Homo sapiens: one gene and its partners. The protein of the gene in region 1 interacts with the protein of each later gene in a pairwise test. Each region holds a gene or a part of one and is shown on either strand. Other genes may lie near its edges.

The links.
Region 2: the proteins of FHL5 (region 1) and BCL6B interact in a two-hybrid assay, tested with the Homo sapiens proteins (one large-scale study listed by BioGRID).
Region 3: the proteins of FHL5 (region 1) and SLIT1 interact in binary tests that used the Homo sapiens proteins (3 or more experiments, as listed by UniProt).
Region 4: the proteins of FHL5 (region 1) and ZNF766 interact in binary tests that used the Homo sapiens proteins (3 or more experiments, as listed by UniProt).
Region 5: the proteins of FHL5 (region 1) and ANKS1A interact in a two-hybrid assay, tested with the Homo sapiens proteins (one large-scale study listed by BioGRID).

The regions. Positions count from the first base shown.
Region 1 is NC_000006.12:96,601,119-96,604,640, forward strand, and holds part of FHL5 (four and a half LIM domains protein 5), read left to right. Parts: exon of another isoform or gene 1-34; intron 35-2,483; 5' UTR 2,484-2,495; coding exon 2,496-2,654; intron 2,655-3,522. UniProt on the Homo sapiens protein: May be involved in the regulation of spermatogenesis. Stimulates CREM transcriptional activity in a phosphorylation-independent manner.
Region 2 is NC_000017.11:7,026,034-7,030,150, reverse strand, and holds the end of BCL6B (B-cell CLL/lymphoma 6 member B protein), read right to left. Parts: intron 3,695-4,117; coding exon 3,530-3,694; intron 3,447-3,529; coding exon 3,316-3,446; intron 3,202-3,315; coding exon 3,064-3,201; intron 2,649-3,063; coding exon 2,532-2,648; 3' UTR 507-2,531; downstream 1-506. UniProt on the Homo sapiens protein: Acts as a sequence-specific transcriptional repressor in association with BCL6. May function in a narrow stage or be related to some events in the early B-cell development.
Region 3 is NC_000010.11:97,042,960-97,046,481, reverse strand, and holds part of SLIT1 (slit homolog 1 protein precursor), read left to right. Parts: intron 1-2,968; coding exon 2,969-3,112; intron 3,113-3,414; coding exon 3,415-3,522. UniProt on the Homo sapiens protein: Thought to act as molecular guidance cue in cellular migration, and function appears to be mediated by interaction with roundabout homolog receptors.
Region 4 is NC_000019.10:52,283,070-52,286,591, forward strand, and holds part of ZNF766 (zinc finger protein 766), read left to right. Parts: intron 1-215; coding exon 216-344; intron 345-3,522. UniProt on the Homo sapiens protein: May be involved in transcriptional regulation.
Region 5 is NC_000006.12:34,895,755-34,899,254, forward strand, and holds part of ANKS1A (ankyrin repeat and SAM domain-containing protein 1A), read left to right. Parts: intron 1-3,500. UniProt on the Homo sapiens protein: Regulator of different signaling pathways. Regulates EPHA8 receptor tyrosine kinase signaling to control cell migration and neurite retraction.

The DNA of each region.
Region 1 (3,522 bases):
AGGTCAGGAGATTGAGACCATCCTGGCCAACACGGTAAAATCCCATATCTACTAAAAATACAAAAATTAGCCAGGCACGGTGGCATGAGCCTGTAGTCCCAGCTACTCAGGAGGCTGAGGCAGGAGAATGGCTTGAACCCGGGAAGTAGAGGTTGCAGTGAGCCGAGATCACACCACAGCACTCCAGCCTGGGCAATAGAGCAGGACTCTGTCTCAAAAAACAAAACAAAACAAAAAATTAAGAAATATGGTCTATATTGTAAGGCATTTTCTGTGGATCCAGGCCTGTTATGTAATTAGGACTGGGGTGGGAGAAGGACCGTCTTGTCTTATATTTAGACTTCTGATCTGATCACTAAATAAGTTACAGGTATTTTGATGTTGTCATGTTTAAAGTGTCATTTAAAATAAACAATTGAAATATTATCAATTTGGTAATCCCTTTTGTGGTTTTATATGTTTTATATATTCATTTTATAATACACTAAAAGCCTCACAAAATGGCAGTAGACTGCAGTTCCTAACCCCTGAGGGGCCGTGTTTCATGATGCTATTATACACATCTAAAACTAAAATAAATATTAATGAAAACGACGTTTTCCATATTAAGTGAAGAGAGTTAAAGGTACATATTTTATTTCTATAAAGTGACAAACACTTGATCGCTGTAAATGTGAATACAACTTTTATTTTTAAACCTTTCAAGGGAATTAGATCTATTTTCCTGCTGTTTCCAAGCCTTCGGTAACCCTCTGAGTGTGTTTGTATTCACTAGGAAGGAACATTTCTGTGGAATTAATCAAATGGAGAATTCAATGTTCCTTTTAGATAATTTTGGCCATGTTCCATTGCGAACTTTCTAGTCTGCATTTCATCTCTTTCCTGGGAAAAGACCCACATATTCCAAATCCTCTGCCTTTTCTCTACTTGTTAGTGAAGAACAATATAGCAAAACTGCTATGTACAGAATTAATAATCATGTGCATTCAGCAAGGCTCTCTGCTGGGAATTTCATCACTAGAATAAGGCAAAACGCATGAGAATAAGAGTTCAAATGTAGTCAGTACAAACTAGTATCAAAAACTCTGTTGTATTATCGTTAATTGCTCCTCTGATTTTGCTAAAATTAAAAGAAAAATTATGTGGGGGGAGAATTAGAAAATATTCAAAGCTCCTAATATATTCCAGTAAACCCTGAGATGACAAATCTCATTTTCCAAGGAAAAGCAGTGCTAATTTTTTTTTGTAACAACAAAGAATTCATGTTCAATGCCTAATTAAAACCTGGAAATCTATATGCGTTGTTTCTTTTTTTTTTTTTTTTTTTTTTTTTTTTTTTTTTTTTTGAGACGGAGTCTGGCTCTGTCGCCCAGGCTGGAGTGCAGTGGCACAATCTCGGCTCACTGCAAGCTCCGCCTCCCGGGTTCACGCCATTCTTCTGCCTCAGCCTCCCGAGTAGCTGGGACTACAGGCTGTGCATTGTTTCTTAATGGCTTTCCAAATTTACAAAACAATCAGAGTCCTTATCTATCACTGGCTTTATGTTTCATATCAGCTTTTTTATTCATCTTACAGAATGCATTTTGCCTTGCAGATGAATTCTAGCTATTTTATCCATAGCTATAATGGAATAGCTGCTGCTATTATTTATGCTCTATACATGTTACTTTGGCCCTAAAGCCTGAAGGAACCCATTGTTGTTTTCTACCACTGATGATTTTATCTGCACTTCTGCATCTGGGCAATTGTTCACAATAGTCACAAAGACCTAGCACTTGGTCTGAGAATCCTACCTGCTGAGGAGTTTTATTTGGCCAGTTTGGTAAAGGACATTTAAATGAAGATATCTAAAGCTAGCAGAAAACAGAGATTTTGGAGTCATCAGCACATTTGGGATGGTGGAAGCCACAGCCAAGGAGGGGATGTAGTACACGAAGACCTCAGGGTAAATGTGCAGAGCCCTTATTAGGTATTCAGTAAAGACTTGAGGAGTAAAAGAATGAACTAGAAAATGACAATGTACTGATTATTAATTTATATTTGAGTAAAAAAGACTGTTATTTCCATCAAAATCTGCCTCTAGAATTTTCCAGCAAGAAAGTAAGTGATGATAGTTATTAAAAGCCCTAGCAACAGTTTATATCCTTGAGGTAAAACCATCCTGTTTCAACAGATACCATATTCTCATTGAATTCCACATTAGCTTATGATAAACACAAGATGTTTTTCATAATCTAGATGCAGGTTTTATGCATTTTTTTTTAGCAAAACATACAGGGAACTGCCAAGATGGGAGAGTAATCTTTCCTAAATCACTCCAAATGTCACCATGACTATAAGCATACTTTCCTAAATTGGGGGATTTTTGCTTAAGAAAATATAAGTTCATTCAAATGCTTCACTCACATTATATTAAGGTTTCATCATTTATCCTATAAACAAAATTCTGCTTTTATATACATTAATCACTTTGTCATTCATAGGATCAAACCAAAATGACAACTGCTCACTTTTACTGTCAATACTGCACAGCATCACTTCTTGGGAAGAAATATGTACTAAAGGATGACAGTCCATACTGTGTTACATGTTATGATCGTGTATTTTCTAACTATTGCGAGGAATGCAAAAAACCAATTGAATCTGATTCTAAGGTAAGTCTCACCTCAATTTACAGAATTACTGCCTATGAACAGCAAACAAGTGGGTTGGAGTGCCTCTTTTCATTTAGTGTTGACTTTCAACACTATTTCTCTGCTACTGGATATATAAGGATCTTAAAAGTTACCAGCAGTCAAGCTCCAGCCACTACACTTAGCACTATGAAATACAACATATGCTTAATCCTCACATGATCTTCTAAGGTAGCTGAGAATGCTAAAGATTAAAGGGGTTAAGCTATTTGTCCAAAGTTACACAGCTAGAATTTTCCTGCTGTTTCCAAGCTCTCAGTAACCTTCTGGGTGTGTTTGTTATTTCTGGAATGACAAGGGTATAAATAAATGCATAAAGAATTGAAGTTGAAAGGATTCAAAATCTGTTTTCTGATGTAAAATCAGCTTCATTTCTTACTAAACCCTATTGATACCTCTCACACCTACCACCCCTTCCTCCGACATGCTTATTCTTTCTTTCTTTCTTTCTTTCTTCTTTTCTTCCTTCCATCCTCCGATTATTTTCCTCTCTCTTTCTCTCTCTCTCTCTCTCTCTCTCTGTCTCTTTCTTCCCTCTTTCTGCCTTTGTTTTACTTAGGTGATGTTATTTTTTGTCTGTTTAGTTACATCTCAAAGAGTAATAGAACATTGCACCCTAAAATTTTTAAAAATCATTCCATGAAAAACCTCTATTATAGTTTATAAAAAGAATATAGGCAAATTTTGAAGACACAGCAGAGAATGTATTTGTTTTTTCCCAGCTGCCTTAAGTGACCCACCAAGAAAGCCCTGGGCTCTAGCTCTTAATTACCCCAGAGAGTCTCCTCTCTATGGGTAACAGTTTCAGTAACAACTTTCCCTCACGCTA
Region 2 (4,117 bases), on another chromosome or scaffold:
GGAAAGGGTGGGAGAGATGCATGCACTGGACCCTGGATAGATTCAAGATACCCTTGCTGGGGGAGGGTGGGCTGGCCCGTTAGTTCTAACTCAGTCTTCTCAGTGCCACCTCCAGCCCCTGTGGTCTTTACGGGACCCAACTCTTATCCATCTTCCTTGGTGATGGAGGCATGTCGCCAGCATTAAGATCTCCAGCACAGATGCACGCCCCGGCCTCTTGATATTATTAGTGGCTTCCTGGTTTCTCCCTGCAGCCTCCACACCTCAGGCAGGAAGTGACTTCAGAGCAGCAGGATGCAGGTGGCTCCGGAGAAACTTCATGAAGTCACTGGTTCCTACACAATGAGCAGGAAGGCAAGGGCAGGGAAGGGGACAACGAGGACCATTTAAAATGTCTGGTGGGAAGGGACAGTGGAATGGTACAGAATCCAAGATGTTATCCAGGAGGAAGAGCTCTCTTCCTCGCTCCCCGAGTCCCCCAAGGCAAGAACCCAGGACACAGCAGGCAGCACAGAGAGGCTTCTTTATTCCAAGGATCTGATGTTGCAAGATCTAACATTTCTACCCCCAGGCATTCTCCACCTGCCCATCCAATCTGCTAAATAGAAATCATGATTCCTTCTTATAGACTCCTCCGCCTTCCCTTCTTCCTTCTTTAATTCTGCAGTGGGGCCATGGGGAGAAAGAGGGAAGAGGGAGAAGAGTAGCTTTCTCACTAGTCCCCAGGCGACAGCCACTAGAACTGACTTATTGTTGAAGTTCTACCCCACAAATTCAAAAGTGCTTCTTACTTTCTACCCTCGTCCCATAATCAGATAAGCCCCAGGGCAACAAGGGGCAGAACTATCAATCAAGGCTTCAGCGCTTCTTCTAACATTTCAGAGACTCCACCCAGCCAAGAGGCAACCCTGTTCCTCACTTTCTACCTACCTGGCCTACACCAGAAACTGCACCCCTCAACCAACCTCTTAATCCTACTTGAAACTTGGTCAACTAGAACAGGCCTTTGGCCTATGGGCTAGTCAATCTTTTACATCTGTAATGCCAACAATAATCCCAACCAAACTACAGCAAACCCAGAATGGAACTCAGCCCCTTTTCTTTTCCTATGGAAGGTTCTAATGCATTCACTGGTTCCAGACAGGAATGCAGGGATGGGAAGACCAGGTCACAGACCCAGCTTTTAAAAGGTAAGGTTACCAAGCACCATCCCTTCTAGAGGAAAAGAAGGTTCTGGCATCTGGACACTTGCCAGAAGATGTCCAAAACCCACTAAAGGAAGAAGGGGCTCAACTCAATAGAGAGAACCCCAGGTAACATTCAAACCCATATGCCTCTGTAGTAAAGGATGGGTTAACACTGTTTACCATCTAATCAAGCTAAAGAGTTTCATGATTCTTCCCTAGGCCATAACATTCATAGAGACTGGGCAGAGTCAGAAAAGGTCACATCATCTCTGATAAGGAATGTCTGATCTCTCCCCCATGGAGCGATCAACTCAGTGCTAAGAACAGGCCCCCGTGGGAGGATGATGGACTCCACTTGAGCCCTGGTGGGTCTCTACCACTATAGATGGATACAGCAGAGCCAAACCCAAGTGACCAGATTAATGGGACATTTTAGATTCTGGACCATCTTGCAGAAAAACCTGCCAGCCTCCACTTGGAGTGATACGGAATCCAGATACAGAATCCCCCACACCCACAGCCTCCAGGAGGCATTTATTATTACTTCCATTTTGGGCTCAACATAATGGTTCCTATCACCCTTGAAGAACAGAGAAATGTCTGTATCCATTTCTAGACTGCTAGAGAACCTACAACATCCAGAATACCAGAGAGGGTTCCTGACCCAATTCCACAATCCCGCATGTTCCCAGAGCTGCCCTAGAACAAATAAAGGTTCCAGACCTAGAATTACAGGGGCAGAACACAGAGAACCCCTTTTTCCATTTTAAACAAACTAACAAGCAAACAAACAGGAGAAAGAACAATTCTAAAGATAAAAGTTATGACAGAAATAATATAAAATACCCAAGCCAAACGAGAGAGCCAAGGGCTAGTAATCTCTGCCAGCAGAGCTGTGATCTCACCTTCTGTGTTTCTGGTCACTTTTAATCACACTTGTGGAAGAGGGGAGTGGGAAATGCAATCGAATGAAGGCCCCGGTGCCACCCAAAGGCCTCAATAAATTATATTTACAGATAAACTGAATGCAATGGGGGCCACAGGTGGAGGGCTATTCCCTTAGGGAGACCAGGACTCCAATCTCTCCCCTTTCCCAGCCCCTAGCTAGCTCTCTCCTCAGAAACAATCTGGCTTGTGGGGAAGAGGTTTTGACCAGCAAAACAGAGGCAGATCTAGCCAGGATCTGCCACCCCTGCTCTCCCCAGTGAGAAATTAAGAGGGTGGCAATTTCTGATACCAAAGTGGCCTGGCACACCCCTATGCCCAAGCCTGATAGGGAAGCAAGGCCTGGGCCTGCAGCTTTCCCACCCGCAGGAAGCAAGTGGGGCCTGGGCCTGCGCTCAGCTAGGGCCCCCCGAGAATGTGGTAGTGCACTTTGGTGTTGGTAGCAGCTCCGTGTTTCTGGCGCAGATGCAGCCGCAGTTGACTCTTGTGCCGGAAATGCAGGCCACAGGGGTCGCACTGTGGGAGGACAGCCAAGTCAGGCCCTGCCCCATCCACAATCACCTTTTAGGTGTTGAGCCGGGCGGCCGTCCAGCTCTCCCAGGTGGGAACTATCCAGCGGAAGATCAGCTCTTTGACTCTCACATCCTCCCAAATCCTCAGGGGTGGCTGAGGGGATAGGCCCCGCCTTATTTAGCAAAGGTTTTCCCACTTCTCAGCTCCTCTCTGAGAAAACAGTGCTCAGCCCAGGAGCATCACTTCTATACCTGCCCATCCTGACTCCCAGCCTCCACCCCTTATTTGCTTGGACTCTTCCGGCCACCGCTCATTTCTAAGAGATCTAGGGACAGCCAGGCCCGCACCTCTCAGAGCCCACCCCTAGGCAAAGGAGAGGTAATTCTAAGGCAGTGGGCAGGCCAGGTTGGGTACCCACGTGGTAAGGCTTCTCTCCGGTGTGGATGCGAACGTGGCTCTTGAGGGTCTGCAGGTGGCGGAAGCGGGTTCCGCAGGTAGGGCAAGGGTAGGGCTTCTCCCCGGTGTGGATCAGCACGTGCGCCCGCAGATGTGCCACCTGGGAGGGAGGAGACTTCAAGTCCTGCCTCTGGGAGGAACAGAACCCTCCCTATTGGCCCACCCCACCTCTTGCAGGTTTGCCTTGGAAGCCACTTGGAGGCTGGCTCCGTACCTGTACAAAGCGCGAGCCGCACGTCTCACACTTATACGGCTTCTCTCCCGAATGGATGCGGCTGTGCGTTTTCAGGTTTGCTGGCCGGTTAAAACGGGCTCCGCAGATTGAGCAGTGGTAAGGCTTTTCCCCTGGAGGCAGAGAACATGGGAGATCAGGGACTTTGCCCTAGGACAGCTGTGGGCTTGAAGGCCAGGGCCCTCTCTTCCCCTACCTGTGTGCACTGTACGATGACTGGCAAGGTTGCCCTTGTAGCGGAACGAAGACCGGCACAGCTGACACTTATAGGGTTTGTCTTCGTCCCCAGGAACCAAGGAGTCCAGCCCCGATGAGCACCCTGCCACAGCCTCACAGTTCTGGCAGCTGAAAAATTCACTTCCTGGGAAGGGGAATGGGTGACGGCAACCATAGTTATTAATGAGGGCTATCTAGGTACTACTGAATCCTCAAACCACACAGTAGCAGGCTTTCTGTTTCCCAATTTATTGTTAAGACTTCTGGGGCTGGTTTGACTTGCTCAAGGCCAAGTAAGAAGATAGTAAGATGAGCCAGATCTGACTGCACATCTGTCTGACTCGAGTACTCAGCTAATCTCCTCTTCAATAGCAGTGGTGGGGGCCAGGTACGGTGGCTCACGACTGTAATCCCAGCACTTTGGGAGGCCGAGGCGGTCGGATCACAAGGTCAAGAGATGGAGACCATCCTGGCCAACATGGTGAAACCTCGTCTCTACTAAAAATACAAAAAGTAGCTGGGTGTGGTGGCACGTGCCTGTAGTCCCAGCTACTCGGGAAGCTGAGGC
Region 3 (3,522 bases), on another chromosome or scaffold:
TGGTGAGACCTGTTCTCTTGTACCCTGGGGCATGGGGCCAATGCCCAGTTGGCCTCAAGGGATGGAGACATGTGGACCCTTCTAGGGGTCCCTTCCCATTGCCCTCTGGTCAGGCTGCAAGAGCACAGCATGAGTTCAGGAGTGGCTGGCACTGCTGCAGGCAGGAGGGGCTGGATGACCTTGCCAAGGTGATTCAGTGGGTGTAGATAGGGGAGCAGGGATGCTGCACTGTCCCTGAGATGCTAGGATCCCATAACCCACAGCCCAGCCTGAGCTGACCAGAATCTGGAGCTCAGTGGGATCCTGGGGTCATCTGCTCCTCCATGATGCAGGACACCCCCTCCATCTGCCCCAGGAGGGCTGGCTCTTCAGATGATCCTGAGGGTGTGTATCGTGTCCCATAGACAGGGCAGTCTGTCGGATCTCCCACAGAGATGGAAATGTTTCAAGTCTACGCTGTCCAGACCAGTCACTTCATGTGGCTGTGGAGCAGTTGAAATGTGGCTAGTGCTACTCAGTGACTGAATTTTGAATTTCATTTTATTTTAATGCATTTAAATCTAAATAGCTACATGTGGCTAGTGGCTACTATATTGGACACCACAGCTCTAGGAAGCCACTTGCCCAGGTATAAGTCCCAAATCTGCAGCAGGATGTAGAGTTGTCTCTGAGCAAGTAAATGAATGTGTGACAGGACTCCCTGTGGATTTTTGTTCCTTTATTTTACAAAAAGCAAATTTTATTATGCACTATGTTTTGCAGCTTGCTGTTTTCACCTGTGAATACAGCATTGCCTTCTTTCCAGGCTGTTCCTATAGGCTGCCTCATTTTTCTTTATGCTTACCTAGTATTCCTTAAATGTGGGTGTGGGGGCTGTCCAGTCAGCTGCATTCTTTCCAAGGAAGACTTAGATAAGGACAGAGGAAAAGAGAAGGGCCCATACCCCATCACTATCCAGAAATGACCACTGTTAATTGTTGGTATAAACAACTGTCTTTCCAGTCTTTTACATATCTCTAAACCTGCATACACATACATATACACACATACATACATACAAGCATGCACGCATACAGAAATATTCTAATGGACTCGTACATTTTATTTAGTAACCTGCTTTTTCCTTAAACTTAATATGAGCACCATTACATATTAAAATTTTTTTCCATTCCACATTTAATTCCTAATACAAAAAAAGTGCTCTGCATCAGTTTGAATGACTAGGTATTATATAATTATTGGCAATGTAGGCTGTTTCTATTTTTTTTTTTTTATAAGCAATGTTGTATTGATACCTGCCTTAGTGGGTTCAGGCTGCTATAACAAAGAGCCACAGACTGGAGGTTTATAGACAACAGAAGTTCTGGAGGCTGGAAGTCTGAGACCAGGGTGCCAGCATGGATGGGTTCTGGCGAGGGCCCTCTTCTGGGTTGCAGACTTCTGACTTCTCATTGTGTCCTCACATGGTAGAAAGAGGGCAAGAGAGCTCTCTGGGATCTCCTTGATAAGGGCACTAACTCCATTCATGAGGGCTCCACCCTTATGACCTCATTACCTCCCAAAGAACCCCCATCCTGATCCCATCACACTGGGGATTAGGACTTCAACATAGGGATTGGAGGGGATCACATTCATTCTGTGACAATATCTTTATTGTGAAGTTCACGTATAATGCATGATAATACTCTTGTTAGGAATTCCTAAAGATGGAGTAGTCGGGTGAAAACACAAAGTGTCATTTTGGGGATTTTGCTACATCTCACCAAATGCACTTCCAGGGAGGTATAAAGGCATCTCCTGCCAGTGTGTGGAAGTGCCCAGTCACTCACACTCTCAGAGATCCTGGATGTCATTATTATTATTATTATATTTTTCATTCTTTTTTAATTTGGCAGGCAAAAAATCAATATTGCATAAGTGTCTTTGATTAGTAGTAACATTGAACATTTTTGTGAATGTTGATAAACCATTTTAATTTCTTTTGTGAGTTGGCTACCCTGTGTTGACTTGGTTTTTGTTTTTACTTTTGGTTGGCAAGTGAAATTGAGCTGGGTTTTTGTTGTTATTGTTGTTGTTGTTTAGGGAGACAGGGTCTCACTCTGTCTCCCAGGCAGCTGGGGTGCAGTAGTGCCATCATAGCTTACTGTAACCTTGAACTCCTGGGCTCAAGAGATCCTCCCACCTCAGCCTCCCAAGCAGCTGGGACTACAAGTGCACACCACCATGCCTGGCTAAGTTTTAAATTTTTTTGTAGAGACAAGGTCTCGCTATGTTGCCCAGGCTGGTCTCAAACCCCTGGTTTCAAATAATCCTTGGCCTCCCAAAGTGCTGTTTTTACAGGCATGAGCCACTGCATCAGGCTTGGGCTGGGTTTTTGAAGATGAACAGCAGCTTTTCCAGATGTAGATGAGGCAAAAGAGTATTCTAGAAAACTGTCACAGCGGTGTAGCAGGCTGAGGGCTGGTCCATCTCTAGGGAGGCAGGCAGGTGCCAGGGCTGAGATGGTCCGGGTCTGGGTAGACATGGTCTCAGGTCACAGTAAGGAGTTCGAGCATGACTCGGTGGGCAGTTTGGAGGCTGTTAGTGGACTTTAAGCTGGAGAGTGACATGATGGATTAGGTTTCAGGAAGTCTCCTGGGCACTGATGTGGAGCATGGCCTAAAGACGGGCAGGAACTCTGGGCACCCAGGGCACGGAGGCAAGGCCAGCATGGGGGACAGGGCAGTGGCAGGGAGAGAGAGACAGAGCCTCGAGGCTTCTCAGAGGCGGGGGCGGGTCTGGAGTGGGCACAGGTGTGTAAAACTCGCCTCACCTGGCCGGGGCCTGGCTGGTGCGTGTTCCTGGCTCTGCGGCTCGCAGCCTATGGAGGAGAACTGTGAACGAGCCACGATGGCGGAAGCTGCGTGGCCCAGGTGGATGGCTGGCAGGGCAGCAAGGGTCCCCTCCTCCCTCCCCCGTTCCTCCCCAGAATGCTGCGGAACAACCGCATCAGCTGCATCCACAACGACAGCTTCACGGGCCTGCGCAACGTCCGGCTCCTCTCGCTCTACGACAACCAGATCACCACCGTATCCCCAGGAGCCTTCGACACCCTCCAGTCCCTCTCCACACTGTGAGTCCGGCCTCCAGGACAGGCGGGCGGGGGCTCTGGAGCAACCGTCCCAACCGTCTCGGCCAGCCACTTTGAAAGAGCTCACCCTGGGGGTGCTGGGTCTTCGTGGTTTGCTGAAACGTGGGTTCCACATTTCGAAGTCTCCCTCCGGTCCTCAGAGCCGGTCCTCTTGGTGATGGGTGGTGGTCTGGGAGACAGTGCCATGTGGCCATGTGGCCCTGTGTCCGTGGTACAGGAGGGGTTTGCTGGGACCTCTGAGAGGGGCAGAGTGTCTCCATGGCCGCCTGGCCTGCCTCTTCCAGGAATCTCCTGGCCAACCCTTTCAACTGCAACTGCCAGCTGGCCTGGCTAGGAGGCTGGCTACGGAAGCGCAAGATCGTGACGGGGAACCCGCGATGCCAGAACCCTGA
Region 4 (3,522 bases), on another chromosome or scaffold:
CACATGGTTGAACTAATTTACACTCCCACCAACAGTGTAAAAGTGTTCCTGTTTCTCCACAGTGTCTCCAGCATCTGTTGCTTGCTGACTTTTTCATGATCGCCATTCTAACTGGCTTTAAAGGATTAATTTTTAATATCATCTCTGCTGCCTAAACAGAGGGCTTGGATTTTGGAGACATCACAGCACATCTTGATTCTTTCTTTTATAAACAGGAATCTGTCTTCCTGACCTGAGTATTATCTCCATGATGAAGCAAAGGACAGAGCCCTGGACTGTGGAGAATGAAATGAAAGTAGCAAAAAATCCAGATAGGTGGGAAGGTATCAAAGATATCAACACAGGTAAGAGCTCAGATGGACAGAGTGAAAGCCACACTTTTTTTTTTTTTTTTGAGACAGTCTCTGTTCCCCACACTGGAGTGCATTGGCCATCATAGCTCACTGCAGCTTTGAACTCCTGGGCTTCAACAGTCCTCCTGCTTTGGCCTCCCAAAGTGATGTGATTATAGGCATGTGCCCCTTGCCTACCAGAGCCACACTATTAAATCGTGTTTATAAGTGGGAGAATTGTGTGGAGAAATAAGAGTTTAAAACCTGTGAGTTCTTAAGAGAAATCTTTCTTTACCCCCACCTGTCACCATGTCCTTTATGTATGTATGTATGTATTTATTCATTTATTTATTTTGAGATGGAGTCTTGCTCTGTCTCCAGGCTGGAGTGCAATGGCGTGATCTCAGCTCACTGCAACCTCCGCCTCCCGGGTACAAGTGAGTCCCCTGCCTCAACCTCCCAAGTAGCTGGGATTACAGGCGTGCGCCACCACGCCCAGCTAATTTTTGTATTTTTAGTACAGACGAGGTTTCACCTTGTTAGCCAGGATGGTCTCAATCTCTTGACCTCGTGATCCGCCCGCCTTGGCCTCCGAAAGTGCTGGGATTATGGTGTCAGCCACCGCGCCCAGCCCACGCTGTCGTTTAGATGTGTAATAGTTTTATGTTTTTGCCCTGCAGTGTTACTGCAGCCCAAACAGAGGCAAAAGCAAAGGCTTTTATCATGATGGACAATACCCTGTCATGTGGCTTCTGTCAACTCTTTAGTCCTTGATTCTGAGGGTCACAGAGAGCGCTGCTTCAAAGGAGTCCCTTTTCCCTGTGGTCTCTTCCTGTATGGGATTTTATCTGATGCTCAGTTCTCTGTCCTTATACATCAGAGCTGAGGTCTGCATAGACCTGCCTCCTTGACCTATTCATGATCTGCCCATTTCCTGTACTGGGAAGACCTGATGGGGAGATGGGAAAACACAGGCTGCTGTCTTTTGCATCTGGGTCCTGGAAACTGCATGGAGCTGTTTCAAGCCCTCTTTGCCTGTTCAGTTCTGTTTGAGGTGGGAAAAAGTCAGTGATTTTCCTACTCTCACATGCTACTTGGCACAGAATGCTTCATTTCTGGTCACCAAAATGTGTGGAGATTTCTCCCCACCAGCAACCAGTTTTGGGGTTTCCTGCAATTCATTGGTGACACTATCTACCTGAGTTAGAGTCGCGTCCCACAGGCTAAGGGTTGAGTTCCCAAGCCTGTCCGCCACCAATTGCCAGTAGCGGGTTGTCACCTTTCCATCTGACCAACCAGCCACAAGTCAGGGTTCCCTCGACCCCCTTCTTCTGTTTGGTTACTTTGCTAGGGTGGCTTACAGAACTCAGTGAAACACTTCGTTATGTTTATTGGTTCATGAGGAAGGATGTTTCCAAGGATACAGATGGACAGCCAGATGAGGAGATTCACAAGGCGAGGCACATGGGAAGATTCACTGGGTGTGCCGCCCTTGAGGCCCACCGCACGTGTTCAGCATGTGGAAGCTCTCAGGAACTTTTATGGAGGCTTCATTACTTAGGCATGATTGGTATTAACTCAGTCTCCAGCCCCTGTACCCTTCCTGGAGGATGGTGGTTGGTGCTGACAATTCTGTGCTTCTAACCATGGCCTGGTCTTTCTGGGCTTTCTATACCTGCAGATATAGAAACCATGGATATGAAGGCCAATAGTAAGGGACTTGAGCATCACACATTTTGGTATCTCAGGGTTTTTTAGCACAAAACTCGCAAACCATGTTTTTCCTCTGCTCTCACACCACCACGACAATTATCAACACAGAAGAAGACTTCTCTGACCAAAGGTGTGGGGGGTTTTCCCCATACACCAAGCAGCAGACAGCAGCTGGGTGTCCTCCAACTCACTTCCAACACTGTATCTGGAGATAGGGCCAGGTCCCACAGGTTTAGGGCTCAGTCTCCAAGACTTGCCCCCCTTCCCACCAGTTGCAAGTCTGGGTCTCCAAACTTCTGACCAACTGGCTTCCAGTTGAGGTTTCCACAATCCCATCTTTGGGCCCAATTAGTTTGCTAGAGCAGCTCACAGAAGTCACAGAAACACTCAGGTTTACCGGTTTATTATGAAGGATATTGCAAGGGTACAGATGAAGAGACATGTGGGACAGGTATGGGGGAAGGACTGTGGAGCTTCCAAGCCCTCCCTGGGCGTGCCACTCTCCAGGAAGCCGCCATGTGTTCAGACATCCTGAAGCTCTTGGAACCCAGTCCTCTTGGGTTTTCATGGAAGCTTTGTGACATCAGCATTCCTTCCCCCAGGGTATACAGCAGGAACCTCTCTGGGGAGGTCTTAAGACCCGCAATCAGAAAGGTAGGGGGAAAGTTAGAGTCCTGCCTTAGGGCAGGTGAAAGAAGAGGAGGAGAAGGTTGGAGAGGTTATTTTTCTTAAGGTCTGCAGAGAAGGTCTAACCCAACATTATACCCAAAGACTGTAGCAAGGGCTATGGGAGTTATGAGCCAGGAACTGTGGACAAAAACCAAGGTATATGTGTATCATAACACCACACAGAGGAGCCTGGAACGTGTCCTCCCTGGATACCAAGGGAGGGATTCTGAATCGAAATAATGGATGTGCACCCAGTCAGTAATCAATGAAAGAGAGTTAATAAGCACAAGTGGGTACCACTGCATTTAAATGATATAAGACCAGAGAGTCAAGAAAGACCTGGATCCCGGAAGAGCTCAATTAAAAAAAAAAAAAGAAAGAAAGAAAGAATCCAAGTGGGCTTTTCCCCCCTAATTATAAAGGAAAAGCCTTCATTCTTTCAATATTGAGTATGATGTTACCTTTCGGCTTTTTATATATGGACTCTATTATGTTAAGTAAGTTCCTCGTATTCCTAGTGTGTTGAGTGTTTTTCTTTCTTTTTTTTTTTTTTCTTTTGGGGGAGTGTCTCATGCTGTCCTGATCTTGACCTTGGCTCACTGCAGCCTCCACCTCCCAGGCTCAAACAATCCTCTCACCTCAACCACATGCCTGGCTGATTTTTGTATTTTTTGTAGAGGTGGAGTTTCGCTGTGTTAGCCAGGCTGGTCTGGAATTCCTGAGCTCAAGCGATCCTCCCGCCTTGGCCTTCCAAAGTGCTAGGATTACAGGCATGAGCCACCGTGCCTGGCGAGTGTTTTTATCATAA
Region 5 (3,500 bases), about 62 Mb from region 1:
AAAATAGTTTTTCAAGAATGTCTTTCTTTTTTTTTTTTTTTTTTTTTTTTTCTGAGACAGTGTCTCTCTCTCTCGCCCAGGCTGGAGTGCGATGGCACGATCTCGACTCATTGCAGCCTCCACCTCCCGGGTTCAAGCGATTCTCCTGTCTCAGCCTCCCGAGTAGCTGGGATTACAGGCGCACGTATTTTAGTAGGGACGGGATTTCACTGTGTTGCCCAGGCTGGTCTCGAACTCCTGAGCTCAGGCAGTCTACCCTCAGCCTCCGGAAGTGCTAGGATTACAGGCGTTAGCCACCGTGCCTGGCCTTTTTTTTTTTTCTTTTTTTTTTCAGAGACAGTGTCTCACTCCTTCATCCAGACTGGAGTACAGTGGTGCAATCTCAGCTCACTGCAACCTCTGCCTCTCAGGTTCAAGTAATTCTTGTGCCTCAGCCTCCTGAGTAGCTGTGATTACAGGCATGCACCACTGCACCTGGCGAATATTTGTATTTTAGTAGAGACAGGGGTTTCACTATGTTGGCCAGGCTAGTCTCGAACTCCTGACTTCAAGTGATCTGCCTGCCTCGGCCTCCCAAAGTGCTGGAATTACTACAGGTGTGAGCCCCCACGCCCAGCCAAGAATGTCTTAAAATACTCCCTTTAAGTGTGATTTTGTTGGGAGGGCAGCCCTGTTCCTGCATTTTGGAATTGCTGTACTTACATTTTTGCTTTCTCTAAAGCAGAGTGTGGTTCCCATGTTAAAAAACAAAAGGAAACAAAAAAAGGTAACATGCTTGGAAATGACTTTTGTGGTAGTTACTTTATATGTAAAAATCTAGAAGGTGCCTAATCTTAAACTGAGTAAGGCATTTACTTAGAATTAAAGATAATTTACCCAGCCTGGGCAACATGGCAAGACCTCGTTTCTACAAAAAATAAAAAAACTAGGCCAGGCGCAGTGGCTCACGCCTGTAATCCCGGCACTTTGGGAGGCTGAGGCGGGTGGATCACCTGAGGTCAGGAGTTAGAGACCAGCCTGGCCAATATGGTAAAACCCCATCTCTATTAAAAATACAAAATCAGCTGGGTGTGGTGGCCTGCATCTGTAATCCCAGCTACTTGGGAGGCTGAGGTAGGAGAATTGCTTGAACCTGGGAGGCAGAGGTTGTAGTGAGCCAAGATCGTGCCATTGCACTCCAGCCTGGGCAAAAAAGAGCGAAACTCCATCTCAAAAAAAATAAAAATAAAAAATTAGCTGAGTGTGATGGCATGCACCTGTGGCCCCAGCTACTCAGGAGGCAGAGACGCAAAGGTGGGAGAATTGCTAGAGCCCAGAAGGTGGAAGGTTGAGGCTGCAGTGAAAAGAAAATTTACTACAAAGTTTAAGATTTAAAGTCAGTGGTCTCCCTTTTTCCTGCATCCTCCAATTGAAGTTCAGTTTTTACTTTCTTAGTTGCAAAAATTAGAGACAGGAAACAATGAAACAAGCTTGTGATCTGAAGAATTTGACTTGTATCTAGTAGCTTCAGCATGTTCACGGGTCATAGGAGGTTATGGTCCCAGTGAAAGTTACATTCTTGGCCAGAAAAATCCCTTCAGGAGGTTCTTTTTCCCACATTGGATTGTTCACCCCAAACAGCTGTGAATTCTGGTTTGCAAAAGGAAGTCCAGGCTATTTCTGCCCTAGTCTTTCATAGGGAAAGTAAATTACTGGGTTTTTAGCCCAGAAACACTAAGGAAACCCCAGAAGTAGACAGTGGAGAGTTTGTTCTTAGAAAAATCAGGCTCTCCTGTGGGTAGGAACTTGGTCTCTTTTTTGGAGAGCTCTCAGAAAATATTTCCCACACTGATTTCCAAAGGATTATTGGGAGATTTTCTGTGGTAGAGAAAATTATATCGTATAATATGTTACATTCATAGAACATCTTCACATAACTTTGGTGTGGTTAGAGTTAATGGTAGTAATACTGGAAATTATATGGTATGTCTTCATATTTATCCTTTCTCAGTAATTTGTAGATCAAGTTTGTTTAGTTTACAAATCAAAAAAGAGTTTTTAAAACAAGTCAGTTGTCTCTGCTTTGAAACAAGATAGTTGTATCTGTTTGTGATATTATTACCACTGATCCAGGAAGCAGAACTGCCTCCTGGCCTACTTAAGTGGTGAGGACATACTATGGTGGCTAAGGATCAGGTTCTGACCCAACTCTGCCTTGTGACTTAGGCAAATTAAGTCACTTTTCTGCGCCTCTGTGTCTTCATATATATAATGGGCCTGGGATGGTGCCTATCTTCTAAAGCAGCATTAAATGAGCTAAAGGATGTAAGGCATATAATGCCTGGCACATGGCAAGGGTTTGGTAACCCTCAGCTGCTAGAATCATCTAATGGGAGCCAGGTGCTTGCCACCCTTGATGAATCAGAGTGAGGACCCTGTTAAGGACATATCTTTTATTGATGTTGCCATTTTAACATTTATAATAATTCACAGCAGAAGCTCCCAACCTTTTAAACTATGAAGAGTCCCATAGTTTTAAAAAGCCTGAAAATTGGCAATGGTGGCAAAGTTACAAAGCAATCCAGGTCCACAATCCTTTGTTTGAAACCTTGGGGCCAGATATGTTTTCAGGGTGCTGACTCAATATTGTATATTGAGTCCCTAGTGGGACTGTGGCAGCACCCTGGAAACATTGTATTTCTACAGCAAAACCTGTAAATATTGACTAAATGGGATAAATATGAAGCCGCTTCATATCAGCGTAGGTCAGGTTTTGCAGCTAAATGACTGCTGCTAACTTATGAAAATATATTTTCAGAGCTTTTTGGATTTCTGAATTGTTGATAAGGGACTGTAAACCTCTGCCTTTATGGTAGAAAAATTGCAAGACAAAGAAATGCACTAAGAAGAAAATAAAATCAGTTATAATTTTACCACCTACAGAAATTAACTTGAAATTTTGGTGTACAATCTTGTTTTTTTCTGTGCAAACTTTTTTTTTTAACAGAAATGACATTATTTTGTATATACTTTGTCTCATGTTTTCACGAACTATATTGTGAAAACACTTTCCTATATTTTCTGTCCTCCTCAACCTCATTTTAAATGGATGTGATATCCGTGGTATATATGAATTGTAATTAATTTAACCCCTTTCCTGACATGGAACATGAGTTTGTTTTTCGTTTTTTGCTATTAGAACAGCTCTGTGATGAACATGCATGTGGATAAGTTTGTGTGTACATTCTGCTTATAACATTTGATATATTCAATAGAATGGTAGGTGTAGTTTCAACATTCAGCCATTGCAGAAATCAACAGCTGAATATTCAAATTGCACCTCAAAATCAACAAGAAACATACATGTTGTTGAATTTGAGGACTCATAGTAATTCTGAGGCCCCTTACATCTCCTGGGTCCTTCTGACTGGGAAGTAATATACTGATTTATGGTTGCTAAATACTACTTATATTCAGAAAGTAACCTTTGTGCAAGCCCAGGACTTTTTAATGGTTAACTT